2 linked regions of the Homo sapiens genome follow. The protein of the gene in region 1 purifies or fractionates together with the protein of each later gene. This does not show direct contact. Each region holds a gene or a part of one and is shown on either strand. Other genes may lie near its edges.

Region 1 (7,279 bases):
TTTGAGTTAATTTTTGTATATTTGTGAGGTACAGCTCCAACTTCATTCTTTTGCTTGTGGGTATCCAATTGTCCCAGCACTGTTTTTTGAAAAGACTATTCTTGGCTGGGCGCAGTGGCTCATGTCTGTAATCCCAGCACTTTGGGAGGCCAAGGCAGGCGGATCACGAGGTCAGGAGATTGAGACCATCCTGGCTAACACGGTGAAACCCCATCTCTACTAAAAATACAAAAAATTAGCCAGGTGTGGTGATGGGCGCCTGTAGTCCCAGCTACTCGGGAGGCTGAGGCAGGAGAATGGCATGAACCCGGGAGGCGGAGCTTGCAGTGAGCCGAGATCGCGCCACTGCACTCCAGCCTGGGTGGCAGTGAGACTCCGTCTCAAAAAAAAATAAGAAAATGTGAGTACTCAAACATGGTTCTTTTTCAAGATTGTTTAGGTATTCTGGGCCCCTTGCATTTCCATATGAATTTCAGCTTTTCCATTTCTGCAAAAGCAGCAGCTAGGATTTTGATAGGGATTGCACTGAATCTGTAGATTCATTTGTGGAGTATTGCCATCTTAAAATATTAATTCATCTAATCCATGAACATGGGATGTCTTTTCACTTCTTTGATTTCTTTCATTGATGTTTTGTAATTTTCAGTGTATAGGTTTTGCACTTCTTTGCTTAGATTTATTCATTAGAATTTTATCTTTTTAATGCTATTCTAAATGGCATTTTCTTAATCTCATTTTGATTGTTCATTGCTACTATATAGAAATACAACTGATGGCCGGGCACGGTGGCTTACACCTGTAATCCCAACACTTTGGGAGGCCGAGGCGGGTGGATCACTTGAGGTCAGGAGTTCGAGACCAGCCTGACCAACATGGTGAAACCACATCTCTACTAAAAATACAAAATTGGGCAGGCATGGTGGTGGGCGCCTGTAATCCCAGCTACCCAAGAGGCTAAGGCAGGAGAATCACTTGAACCCAGGAGGCAGAGGTGGCAGTGACCCGAGATCGTGCCATTGCACTCCAGCCCGGGCAAAAAGAGCAAAACTCCCTCTCAAAAAAAAAAAAAATACAATTGATGTTTGTGTATTAATCTTATATCCTGAAATTTTGCTGAGTTTATTAGCGCTAATGCTTTTTTTCTTTTTGCAGATTCGATAGGATTTCCTACATATAGGATTGTATCTCCTATGATTAGAGACAGTTTTACTTCCTCCTTTCCAATTTGGATTTTTTTTTCGTTCCTAATTTCTCTGACTTCAACTTTCAATAGGATGTTGAATAGTAGTGGTGAAAGTGAGCATCCTTGTCTTATTCCTGATCTTAGGGGAAAAACTTTCAGTAAAGACTGAATATACACCATTTAGTATAATGTTAGCTGTGGGCTTTCTATATACCCTTCAACATGTGTTTTTATTATGAAAAGATGTTAGATTTTATCAAATGCATTTTCTGTGTTTATTGAGATGATCATGTGGGTTTTGGCCTCTATTTTATTAGTATGGTGTATCACACTGATAGGTTTTTGCGTGTTTAATCAACCTTGCGTTCCTGGAACAAATTCCACTTAATCATGGTGTTGAAAATCAATTTATTTTCAATCATAGTGTATAATCTTTTTTATATGTTGCTGGATTTGGTTTGTGAGTTGCTGAGGATTTTTACATCTGTGTTCATAAGGGATATTGGTCTGTAGTTTTCTTTTAATGTCTTTGGTTTGGTATCAGGGTAATACTGGCCTCATAGAATGAGTTGGGAAGTATTTCTTATTCAATTTTTTTTGGAAAAGCTTGGGAAGGATTGGTATTAATTCTTTTTTGAACATTTGATAGACTTTACCAGTGAAAATGGGGTTTTGGGCTTTTCTTTGTAGGAAGTTTTTTGATTACTAATTCAGTCTTTTTGTTTGTTCCAGATCTGTGTATATTTTCTATTTCTTCTTGGGTTCGTTTCAGTAGTTTGTTTCTAGGAATTTGTCTATTTCATCAAGGTTATCTAATGTATTGGTATACAGTTATTCATAGTATTCCCTTATGTAGTAATCCTTTTTATTCCTATAAGGTCAGTAGTAATACCCCTTCTTATATTCCTGATTTTGGCCGTTTGAGTCTTCTCTTTTATTCCACACCCCCCCCCACACACACACACACACCCAGTCACTTTGGTTCAAAGTTTACTAATTTTGTTGGTTTGTAGTCAGCATTTTTTATCTTAGCATGGCATGGTTCTTCTCACTGCCTTTGTGACTTATTTATTAACTGCAGTATAGTAATACTGTAGCCTCTTGGCTTAGGAAAGCATAGGACCTGAGTCATTTGCCCATTCTCAAATTTCAAACTGCCCCTCTGTCTAATTTTGTCATCTGTAAAATTGGGGATTAAATGAGATCTACTATGCACAGTCAAGCTTCAAGTGGTGGGCAGGTAACTGGGTTCCCTTAGTAGCTGAATGAGTCTCTGCTGGAATCCATCCTCATAAAACATGATCTCAAAATTGGAACCCAGTAAATTTCTGCACGCTTGTCAGGAGCACCTCACCCCAGGACCGAGCACACAGTGAGTTCTCAGATGCTCCACATAAACACAAGAAAAGCAGCTCGTGGCACAGTTACATTTTTTTCTCTTCTGTAAGCCCATATGGTTAGTTGTGAGAACCAAAGAAGGATTCTTTCCTTCCAAAATTATGGGTTATTTTCTTTCCTTATTTCAAAAGCAGTATGTGAGCATTTCATGGGGAAAAAAAATGAAAACTAAGCCCAAAAACCAGAACACCCACAATTGTATCTGTCCAGAGATAAGCAATGTTGACCCTTGGCTTGGGGAATATAAGGAGAAGTCACTTTCAGAATACTGTTCTCTAGATTCTCCTATCCAGACCTCTGGAAAAGGTAGTTATTCCTCTTGTATTTGGGGACACTTTACCCAGAAACAAAGGACATTCATCCTCGAGCGTTGGTTTCCCACCCTGCTGAACATTGGAACTCCTCACGGAGCTTTTTAAAAATACAAATTCCCGGCCAGGCGCAGTGGCTCACACCTGTAATCCCAGCACTTTGGGAGGCCGAGGCAGGCAAATCACGAGGTCAGGAGTTTGAGACCAGCCTGGCCAACATGGTGAAACCCCGTCTCTATTAAAAACACAAAAAATTAGCTGGGCATAGTGGCAGGTGCCTACTATGCCCAGCTACTCGGGAGGCTGAGGCAGGAGAATCGCTTGAACCCAGGAGGCAGAGGTTGCAGTGAGCAGAGATCACACCACTGCACTCCAGCCTGGGTGACAGAGTGAGACTCTGTCTCAAAAATAAATAAATAAACAAACAAACAAACACATTCCCAGAGAGCACCTCAGATCCATTGAATCAGTCTCTGGAGGTGGGGCGCAGGCAGCTGTGATTGGAAGCAGCCTGGTAGGGAGGGGGATGACTCTTGAGTGACTTGCAGATGAAGATACCTAGTCCCAAGCTGGCTGAGGGGCCCAGATAGATCTCCAACTGGGCACTTGACCTCTGAACTCCCAGAGGACAATTCTTACTTTCCCTGCTAAGCCAGGACTGTCTGGTCCCATGCAGTTTGCCTGGTATTGGTCTGAGAGTCCTCGGGGCTGGGTGATTCTGAGCAAGGATCATATGGTGTTGGCCTGGTATCCCCAGGGAAGTGTACCAAGCTCACAGTATGTCGGCACTGATGTTTGGAGGGATTCCAGGAGTCCCAGTAACTGCATAGCTGGATCCATCTTTTAAACACATTATTCCAAACCTACACATCTTGTCTTTTAAAACACTCACAGGAGAAACCATTTCAGTAGAAGTTTCCTGTCTATATTTATATCATAAGCACCAAAGGTAACAAATTCTAGTTATTATCCATGTTGTTTCGTCTCTGTCTATATTTTCCATTTCCAAAAGTGCATTAGTGCCTTGATATTTTTCTCAGAAAATCACACTCTTCCTCTTCTCCTTTTTCCTTTAGAGATATGAATCAGGTTCTTGATGCCTATGAAAATAAGAAGCCATTTTATCTGTACACGGGCCGGGGCCCCTCTTCTGAAGCAATGCATGTAGGTCACCTCATTCCATTTATTTTCACAAAGTAAGTATTGGATCTTATGGCTTTTCTTACTCTCTTAGTGAATTGAGAATGTTGCTTATAAACCATGTTTAGAACTGACAAGATCATGCTAGTTCATTTGCTGAGCAACCAAGATGTCAAGAGTTGGCACTTTTTTGGCTTCCATTCACTTTGTTCCTGGGCTCACTTTAGAGGACCATGGAGTGATGGGGAGAGCGCAGCTTTGGAGTCAGCCAGGCCTGCTCCTCTTCTCATCCTGCTCCCTGTCTGCATGGCCATGGGCCTGCTACTTCTCTGAGCCTAAGTTTCCACATCTGCAAGATGAGAATGAAGATACCTACCTCATAGAACTACTGTAAAGCTTCAAAACAAAGTGTGTAGAGCAGCTAACACAGAGCACACAGGGCCACCTGGTCGATAAATGGTAGTAGACCTTATCATTATCCATAGTCAAATTCATATCACAATTCAAATTGTGATTTTGTAGGCAAGGAAGTTTTAACATACGTTGTAAGTAGGAGCTGTGTTTTCAGATGCACGATGGCGTTCCTCCACAGGGGAGATGAGACGTCAGCTTTCTCCCCCTGTGTTTCTTTAGGTGGCTCCAGGATGTATTTAACGTGCCCTTGGTCATCCAGATGACGGATGACGAGAAGTATCTGTGGAAGGACCTGACCCTGGACCAGGCCTATAGCTATGCTGTGGAGAATGCCAAGGACATCATCGCCTGTGGCTTTGACATCAACAAGACTTTCATATTCTCTGACCTGGACTACATGGGGTAAGGAGAAAACGTCTGGCTGCCTTTTCAATAGGTAGAGGAGGATGTCAAGTTGTCATGACCACAGCTAAATTCGAAACAACTGAAATGGTCTTAAGGCCTAGTAAATGTTCTTCTTCCTTTATTAAATGCTATGAGTGGCCAGCCATGGTGGCTCACACCTGTAATCCCAGCACTTTGGGAGGCCGAGGTGGGCGGGTCACGAGGTCAGGAGTTCAAGACCAGCCTGACCAACATGGTGAAACCCATCTCTATTGAAAATACAAAAATTAGTTGGGTGTGGTGGCACGCACCTATAAGCCCAGCTACTCAGGTGGCTGAAGCAGGAGAATCGCTTGAACCCGGGAGGTGGAGGTTACAGTGAGTTGAGATCACGCCATTGCACTCCAGCCTGGGCAACAGAGCGAGACTCCATCTCAAAAAGGAAAAAAAAATGCTATGAGCTGGTTTATTGGTTTTATTTACCAATAATTTTGAAAGTGAAAAGCTGTGTATGTACATAGAAAGGATTAAGTGATATCAGTATCTTAAAGACTCGATTATTGTCTCCATAATTACATTTACAGAAATTTAAAATATGGGCTCAGCCACAGCATGATGGCATCTCAGATCTTCATCCTCAGCTGTGCCAGGAAGTCCTGCCTTGCAGTTTCTTGCCAAGGATAGTCAGTCTTCCAGAGTTATGTCTTCCTCCTTTTCAACGCACCTTTTCCTCACAGAGAAAAGACTCAGTGGTTACACAGTTTCCTCAGTCTAGTTCTTTTAATCAGCCATTTAATAAACCAAAATATTTCATTCTGAAAATCCTTCAAGTTTCATCCCAAATGATTACCAAGAAATGTGTTAGAAAAATAAGACTTTGGTCAACCATCACAAGAAGGATACTATCTAGCTCAACAAATATTTCTTGAGCACCTGAGTTGTGGTACTCCCCTAAGGTGAGATACTCTTCTAAGTCATAGTACTCCCCTAAGGCGTGGTCTCTCCTAAGGCATGGTACTCCCCTAAGGCATGTTACTCCACTCCCCAAAGACGTGTTACTCCTCCCCTAAAGTGATTCCCCAGGAGGAGTGGGTTCATTGCTATGCTCCTGCAGCCCAGGCTGGGCTCTGAGCAGGCCCTCCCATGTTAGCTCACCATCAGGGACCATGCCGAGGCAGGATAAGAGGGACACTAAAGGGGCAGGTGAGCAGTGAGCACAGGAGGACTTGCTTAGAGCCGCATCCCCAGAACGTTCCCTCTTATAAGACCTTAAAACTGAGTAGTGGCAGCCAGGCGCGGTGGCTCATGCCTGTAATCCCAGCACTTTGGGAGGCTGAGGTGGGTGGATCACAAGGTCAGGAGGTCAGGAGTTCGAGACCAGCCTGGCCAATATGGTGAAACCCCATCTCTACTAAAAACACAAAAATTAGCCGGGTGTGGTGGCGTGCTCCTGTAGTTGCAGCTACTTGGGAGGCTGAGGCAGAAGAATCGCTTGAACCTGGGAGGCGGAGGTTGCAGTGAGCCGAGATCATGCCACTGCATTCCAGCCTGGGCAACAGAGTGAGACTCTGTCTCAAAAAAAAAAAAAAAAAAAAAGAAAGAAACTGAGTAGTGGTTTTATATCCATTGAGAGCAATGTATACCCTGATAGGAAATCTCGCCCTTCTATCAGCCAGTAAAACTGTTAGCTTTTTCTTTTTCTTTTTTTTTTTGAGACGGAGTCTCGCTCTGTCACCCAGGCTGGAGTGCAGTGGCACAATCTCGGCTCACTGCAAGCTCCGCCTCTCAGGTTCACACCATTCTCTTGCCTCAGCCTCCCAAGTAGCTGGGACTACAGGTGCCCGCCACCATGTCCGGCTAATTTTTTGTATTTTTAGTAGAGACGGGGTTTCACTGTGTTAGCCAGGATGGTCTCGATCTTCTGACCTCATGATCTGCCTGCCTCGGCCTCCCAAAGCACTGGGATTACAGGCATGAGCCACCACGCCCAGCACCTATTAGATCTTTTAAAATTACTTCTCTTGGTTCAGCCATGTGAGCATGGAGGCCCTGTGGCATCCTTGAAGGAAGGAAAATAGACAGGGATCCAGATCCTGGCACCTGGGTTTAGTGGCTGTGTGTCATAGCAGCCGTGTCCATGAAATGGGATCAAACAAGAACATAGATGTCATCATTAGCATAATTTTCTTTTTTTTTTTTTTTTTTGAGACAGAGTCTCACTCATGGGTTTTGCCATGTTGGCCAGGCTGGTCTTGAACTCCTGACCTCAAGTGATCCTCCCCGCCTCAGCCTCCCAAAGTGCTGCGATTACAGGTGTGAGCCACCATGCCCAGCCGTGTTAGTATAATTTTCATGGCACTTTATTTCCTTATTCTCACCCCATTCCATACAATGATTCAACTGATTGAACCTCTGCAGAGACAACTGTGGGTTCTGCTTCTCCTTTTCC
Region 2 (7,279 bases), on another chromosome or scaffold:
CCAGTATTTGCTGAGATCCCCCTATTGTCTCTACTTTTATCTTTTTTTTTTTTTTTTTTTTTTTTTTTGAGACGGAGTCTCTGCATTGCAGTAGTACAATCTCGGCTCATTGCAACCTCCGCCTCCCGGGTTCAAGCAATTCTCCTGGCTCAGTCTCCCAAGCAGCTGGGACTACAGGTGCCCGCCACCATGCCCTGCTAATTTTTGTATTTTTAGTAGAGACAGGGTTTCACCATGTTGGCCAGGCTTGTCTCAAACTCCTGACCTCAAGTGATCCTCCCGCCTTGGCCTCCCAAAGTGCTAGCATTACAGGCGTGAGCCACCCTTCCCGGCCACTGCTTTTATCTTGATGTATAACTGAGTTGATGCTAGATTTCAATTCCTTCTTTGTCCTTTTACTATTCTGTCCTATAGCCACCTTTATATAATGATCAAAGAAATTCGCAATTTGTTATTATCATTTTTATTTTTTATAAAATATTTAAAATGATTTAAAATAAAAATCATTTTATTTTTATCATATTTATTATCATCTGTTATCATTTTTATTTGGATGACTATTTACTTTGCCATTAACTAGCAAGCGGTAAAATTGTATGATATGCAGTTTTAACTGAATTGCTATAAGTGAAAATTTAAATGCAATAAACCATATTGATGGTATTTGTGTTAACAAACTTAAAATGAGCATTTTTTCTTCATCATGAGTAATATAACCTACCCCTCAATGAAAATCTACAATTAGAGTAAATTTGCTAATGAATTCAGTAACTTTTCCATATTTTTAGTGGTTTACTTAAGGTTCTCTTAGTGTTTCTCCCAGTTTTTAATAGCTTACACCTTTTTTGCCCGTGGTTTTTTGTTTTTTGTTTTGTTGTTGTTTTTTTTTTTTTTGAGATAGAGTTTTGCTCTTGTTGCCTAGTCTGGAGTGGCACGATCTTGGCTCACTGTAACCTCTGCCTCCCAGGTTCAAGCAATTCTCCTGTCTGAGCCTCCTGAGTAGTTAAGATTACAGGTGCCCGCCACCATGCCCAGCTAATTTTTGTATTTTTAGTAGAGACAAGGTTTCACCATGTTGGCCAGGCTGGTCTTGAACTCCTAACCTCAGGTGATCCACCCACCTCGGCCTCCCAGAGTGCTGGGATTACAGGCGTGAGCCGCTGCGCCCGGCCTCATGTTTTCTATTGGTTCATTATGAAGCAAAAACTTCATAGCATGTGCTACCTGGAAGCACTGTAACCTAGTGGTAAGATCATAGGCTCTGGGGACACAGTGCCTTGCCACGTCTCTTCTCCTGTCTGAGTCTTAGTATCCTCTTTTGTGGTCATGAGAACTGAAGATCTATCCTGGAGATTGATAAGATAGTAAAGTGCTTCACGTAATACCTGGCATACATGTAATAAATGCTTCCTGTGTGTATATATATACACACATATACATATATATGTATATATACATATACACATATACATATATATATATATATACATAAACACATATACATATATATATAACACAGTGAAACCCCCGTCTCTACTAAAAATACAAAAAATTAGCTGGGCGTGGTGGCGGGCACCTGTAGTCCCAGCTACTCGGGAGGCTGAGGCAGGAGAATGGCGTGAGCCCGGGAGGCAGAGCTTGCAGTGAACCGAGATCACACCACTGCACTGCAGCCTGGGAGACACAGCAAGACTCCATCTCAAAAAAATAAAAAAAAAGTTAAAGAGCACTACAGATTCAATGATTTATTATTCTTTTCTACAAATTGTGTTTAAATGATATCTCTTTCTCTTTTTGTCCTTATAGCTCAAGCCATAAAAGCCAAAGGTCCGGTGACGATCCCGTACCCTCTTTTCCAGTCTCATGTTGAAGATCTTTATGTAGAAGGACTTCCTGAAGGAATTCCTTTTAGAAGGCCATCTACTTACGGAATTCCTCGCCTGGAGAGGATATTACTTGCAAAGGAAAGGATTCGTTTTGTGATTAAGAAGTAAGACTCTTGGATTCCTGTTGAACTCTTGTCTCTTTTCTGAGTAATACGTCTTTTTTATTGTTGACCAATATTCATTCACCACTAGGTTCTATGTGATGAAGTTTGAGTTATTTTATGTATTTTTATCTTGCACTTTTTAATTTATCTGGGTCCAGCATTGCATCAGTCATGCAGTGTTGGCATTCGAAGCATGAACAGTGCCCGCACTGGATTGGCATGCAACTCACATTTTCTTTCACAATTTTCTGCTACTTTTGCTAAAGAACATAGAATCCACGCCTTGTTTTTAGGCCTGATATATATATATATTTTTTTTTTCGAGATGGAGTCTCACACTGGAACCCAGGCTTGAGTGCAGTGTCGCAATCTCAGCTCACTGCAACCTCTGCCTTCCAGGTTCAAGCGATTCTCATGCCTCAGACTCCCGAGTAGCTGAGATTACAGGCGTGCGCCACCATGCCTGGCTAATTTTTGTATTTTTAGTAGAGACGGTGATTCACCATGTTGGCCAGGCTGGTCTTGAACTCCTGACCTCAGATGATCTGCCAACCTCGCCCTCATAGGCCTGAGATTTTTAAAGCATGCGTGGGAATATATGATTGTTTTTATAGATGTGCAGAGGAAGATAGTCTTGAATGCAATATGACATTAAAGGATCCCATTTAAGATTTTTGTAATATGCTTCAAAGACCTGTGGGTTGCAAAGTTACCTCTTTACTTGTGAGGATACATGCTCCATGAAGCACCTTATGAGACAACTTGCAATTATTAGTTTGCTTTTTACTCTGTAGAAACCTCAAATTAAGATTTAGTTGTGGGCTGGGTGTAGTGGCTCACACCTATAATCCCAGCACTTTGGGAGGCCAAGGCGGCTGGATCACCCGAGGTCAGGAGTTCGAGACAAGCCAGGCCAACAATGGTGAAACACTGTCTCTACTAAAAATACAAAAATTGACCAGGTGTGGTGGTGGGCGCCTGGAATCCCAGCTACTTGGGAGGCTGAGGCAGGAGGATTGCTTGAACCCGGGAGGTGGAGGTTGCAGTGAGTCGAGACTGCGCCATTGCACTCCAGCCTGGGAACAAGAGCAAAACTCCGTCTCAGGAAAAAAAAAAAAAAGATTTAGTTGTGCTCAAGCATCCAGATTATCTTTTCTTTTCAAAACCAGCCTTACTGACTAAATGTTAAATATGTACTAGTCGTTATTAGTTTGCTGAATATTACCTAGTGATTATTGAGTATTTATTCTCACCTTTCAGACATGAGCTTCTGAATTCAACACGTGAAGATTTACAGCTTGATAAGCCAGCTTCAGGAGGTAGGTCTTCAATCTCGAGGCAGATCAGAAGATTATGTGCAATAATTATTTCACGCTTAACATTGATTTCTTCTTTATGTTACCTTCCACATGAAATAATATGTCTCTAACTATTAATTATGTGCCATTACAGGAGAATTCATGTTGTCAAAATTCTAATAATTTCTAGAAGAATAAACGCATCTTCTTTTTATTAACCCATTGTAAATACTTATAAATATTGCATTTATGGGTAGACAGAAGTAAAAGAACAATATTTGTTCTACTTTTGATGCAAGATTTATCTGGCATAATGCATTGAACAGTTTATTATTGAAGTCTACACGAGTCAATGGAACAAGCATTCATTGAATGTCCATGATATGCAGGACATAAGAAGGTTTCCTTTTAGAGCATGGAGCCATTTATATCATCTCTTAATTGTTAGATGTATTTTGTTTTGTTTTGTTTTGTTTTTTGAGAGGGAATCTTGCTCTGTTGCCCAGGCTGGAGTGCAGTGGTGCGATCTCCGCTCACTGCAACCTCCCGCCTCCTGGGTTCAAGCAGTTCTCCTGCCTCAGCCTCCCTGTAGCTGGGATTACAGGTGCCTGCCACCATGCCCAGCTAATTTTTGTATTTTTCGTAGAGACAGGGTTTCACTATGTTGGCCAGGCTGATCTCAAACTGCTGACCTCAGGTGATCTGCCCACCTCGGCCTCCCAGAGTGCTAGGATTACAGGCATGAGCCACCGCGCCCAGCCTGTTAGATGTGTTTTAAAATAAATAGAAATATAATTGATTTTCTTGCTTGCTTTTGCTCTGGAGTGGAGTGGAGTGAGGATAAAACAGAATGGAATCACCCTGTTGATATTTACTAAGATAGAAGGACTGCAGCAAGATCATAGCCCTAATCTTCCTGTAGCAAGTGTTACCTGCTAGCTGTTCCTGAATACACTGAGTTTTGCTTTTTCCTAGCTCTAATGAATGTTTCGTTCTTCCTCTTTTTGTACAGTGTCAGCATTGTTTTAGAAATAAATACATTCTAGAATCTTAGGAATAATTTTATTATTGTCTTTTTTTTTTTTTGAGACGGAATCTCATTCTGTTGCCCAGGCTGGAGTGCAATGGCGCAATCTCAGCTCACTGCAACCGCTGCCTCCTGGGTTCAAGCGATTCTCCTGCCTCAGCCTCATGAGTAGCTGGGACTACAGGCGTGCGCCATCACGCCTGGCTAATTTTTGTATTTTTAGTAGAGATGGGGTTTCACCATGTTGGCCAGGCTGGTCTCAAACTCCTGACCTCAAGTGACCCGCCTGCCTCGGCTTCCCAAAGTGTTGGGATTACAGGTGTGAGCCATTGCACCTGGCCACGAATCTTAGAAATAATTTTGGCCATAGGAAAAGGAAAAGTTATACCTCTTATTTTATAGTAATAATGTTTAATAATCAAGTTATTAAACCCATTAAATTGAGAACACTTGTATTACTGTTATTTTGACAGTAAAGGAAGAATGGTATGCCAGAATCACTAAATTAAGAAAGATGGTGGATCAGCTTTTCTGCAAAAAATTTGGTAAGTCTGTTTTTTTTAATTACCCCTTCAACTAAAATGTATTACTGAGTAACATTTTTTTAAATGTTGTTTTATTTTAGGAAAGTAAATACAGTGAATAGGACTCAGCTTTAGTTTTCCCTGTTTTTTTTTTTTGGGTTTTTTTTTTTTTCTTGAGAAGGAGTCTTGCTCTGTTGCCCAGGCTGGAGTGCAGTGGTACGATCTCAGCTCACTGCAACCTCCTCCTCCCGGGTTCAAGCAATTCTCCTGCCTCAGCGTCCCAAGTAGCTGGGATTACAGGTGCCCGCCACCACGCCTGGCTAACTTTTGTATTTTTAGTAGAGATGGGGTTTCGCCATGTTGGCCAGGCTGGTCTCAAACTCCTGAATTCAGGTGATCCACCCGCCTCAGCCTCCTAAAGTGCTGGGATTATAGGCGTGAGCCACCGCGCCCGGCCCCCATTCTATGAATTATCTGTGGAAAGTTATTTCCTTTAAAATGGCATGCTCGTGAGGTTGAAGGGGTAAAGAACATTGATCTGGTTGCCACGCAGATGAAAGTGTAGTCGGAAATGTGTTACCAGTTTGCCATAGCCGATGGAGGAGGGTAATTACGGTCCTGAACAGTTAGTAGCAAAAGGCTGCTTCCAGATAGTATTTAGGTTGTGTCCTCTATTGTCCATGATGATTTTCTTTCTCTCTTTTCTTCCTAAGGATATTGAAAAACAAACTTTAATCTTTTAAAGATCTCAGAGCTATTAAGATTGTCTTAGGACCAGGACACTTAAATCTGCCCAAATCTGGCTGTTGATGATCGGTCATCTCTACTTGTCTTTGCTGTATTAAGTCTATTCAATAGTTAATAAATATGTTTCTAGAAAGAGTTTTTTTCAAGTAAAACAAAATTGACCTGTGCCTTTCTTTGGATTGTACTAAAATCTGATTTCAATACAAATGTAGTCTCCCGAATTGCTTTGATTTTTGTCCAGCGGAAGCCTTGGGGAGCACTGAAGCCAAGGCTGTACCGTACCAAAAATTTGAGGCACACCCGAATGATCTGTACGTGGAAGGACTGCCAGAAAACATTCCTTTCCGAAGTCCCTCATGGTATGGAATCCCAAGGCTGGAAAAAATCATTCAAGTGGGCAATCGAATTAAATTTGTTATTAAAAGGTAAGATGATAATCTGTAGAAATAGTTTCAGTGTCTTCCCTGAGAAGAGGTTAATTTGATGAAGAAGGGCCTTTTGTTTACCTTATGACTTATTTCTATTGACAATGAAGGCATTAATATTTAGATTCACTTAGTGAACAAATATTAGTATAAGCATCAGATGTGCAAAATTGGGTCTAACAAGAACACTGTCCTTGGGGCCTTCATACAAAGAAAAATGCACTGAAGGCCGGGCGCGGCAGCTCACGCCTGTAATCGCAGCACTTTGGGAGGCCAAGGCAGGTGGATCACTTGAGGTCAGGAGTTCAAGACTAGCCTGGCCAACATGATGAAGCCCCATCTCTAGTAAAAATACAAAAATTAGCTGGAAGCGGTGGTGCAAGCCTGTAGTCCCAGCTACTCGGGAGGCTGAGGTTGGAGAATCACTTGAACCCTAGAGGCGGAGGTTGCAGTGAGCCGAGATCGTGCCACTGCACTCCAGCCTGGGCAACAGAGCGAGACTCCATCTCAAAATAATTAAAAAAAAAAAATAGAAAAATGCAATGAAGTGTTATTGAGCGTTTTTAAGGGAGAAGGCAAGGATGGCACACCCAGCTCGGTCACTTGTGCATCCAGAAGAGATGGAAGGTGTTTCAAGTGAAGGAAATCATATGAGTAGGGGGAGGAGGTGGCAAATATGCCTGCGTATCCACAGAACTCACCCACCGTGTGTGGAGTGAGGACTGCCACGTGGGCGTGGTGGGGTTGCATGGATCGACTTGGGTGGGCAAGTGGAGGAAGGCCTGAGATCCTACGAACACAGAGGCAGTCACGAAGTGGTCTCGAGGCAGATGCCTCTGAAAATAATGTGGATCCGCCCTTTAGAAAGGTAATTCTGGCTTGATTTTGAAGGATAACACAATGGTTAGTTTGGGTGCGGGGTTAGGAACAGAAGGCCTCTCTCCACTCATTGACGGGATGTGGAAGGGTAAACCTTCCTTACTGATTGGGGTCATGCCTCTGTGTGTTTGTTGGGACTGAGTTATAAGGGATAGGAAACGTTTAAGATGCTACAGCGAGCTGCTTCTGGCTGTGCTGTGGGACAGTTCATGTAAGATTCAGAAACAGAATTGAGCTGGTTTGGGGGAAAAGTGACTTTCGCCTGTTTATCTTAAATATAGGATGATTTTGAAGGTCTCACCCGAATATCTGAAAATTGCCATTTTCAAAATAAACTCGTCACCAAAATGATTTTTTTTTCACTATAAAATGAAGGCAGGATGAACCAT

Evidence for each region.
Region 2: the proteins of WARS1 (region 1) and GTF2I fractionate together in Homo sapiens (co-fractionation; 2 studies listed by BioGRID). This does not show direct contact.

Annotation. Positions count from the first base shown.
Region 1 is NC_000014.9:100,351,256-100,358,534, reverse strand, and holds part of WARS1 (tryptophan--tRNA ligase, cytoplasmic), read left to right. Parts: intron 1-3,968; coding exon 3,969-4,088; intron 4,089-4,665; coding exon 4,666-4,848; intron 4,849-7,279. UniProt on the Homo sapiens protein: Catalyzes the attachment of tryptophan to tRNA(Trp) in a two-step reaction: tryptophan is first activated by ATP to form Trp-AMP and then transferred to the acceptor end of the tRNA(Trp).
Region 2 is NC_000007.14:74,730,673-74,737,951, forward strand, and holds part of GTF2I (general transcription factor II-I), read left to right. Parts: intron 1-1,806; coding exon 1,807-1,990; intron 1,991-3,250; coding exon 3,251-3,309; intron 3,310-4,788; coding exon 4,789-4,860; intron 4,861-5,827; coding exon 5,828-6,011; intron 6,012-7,279. UniProt on the Homo sapiens protein: Interacts with the basal transcription machinery by coordinating the formation of a multiprotein complex at the C-FOS promoter, and linking specific signal responsive activator complexes.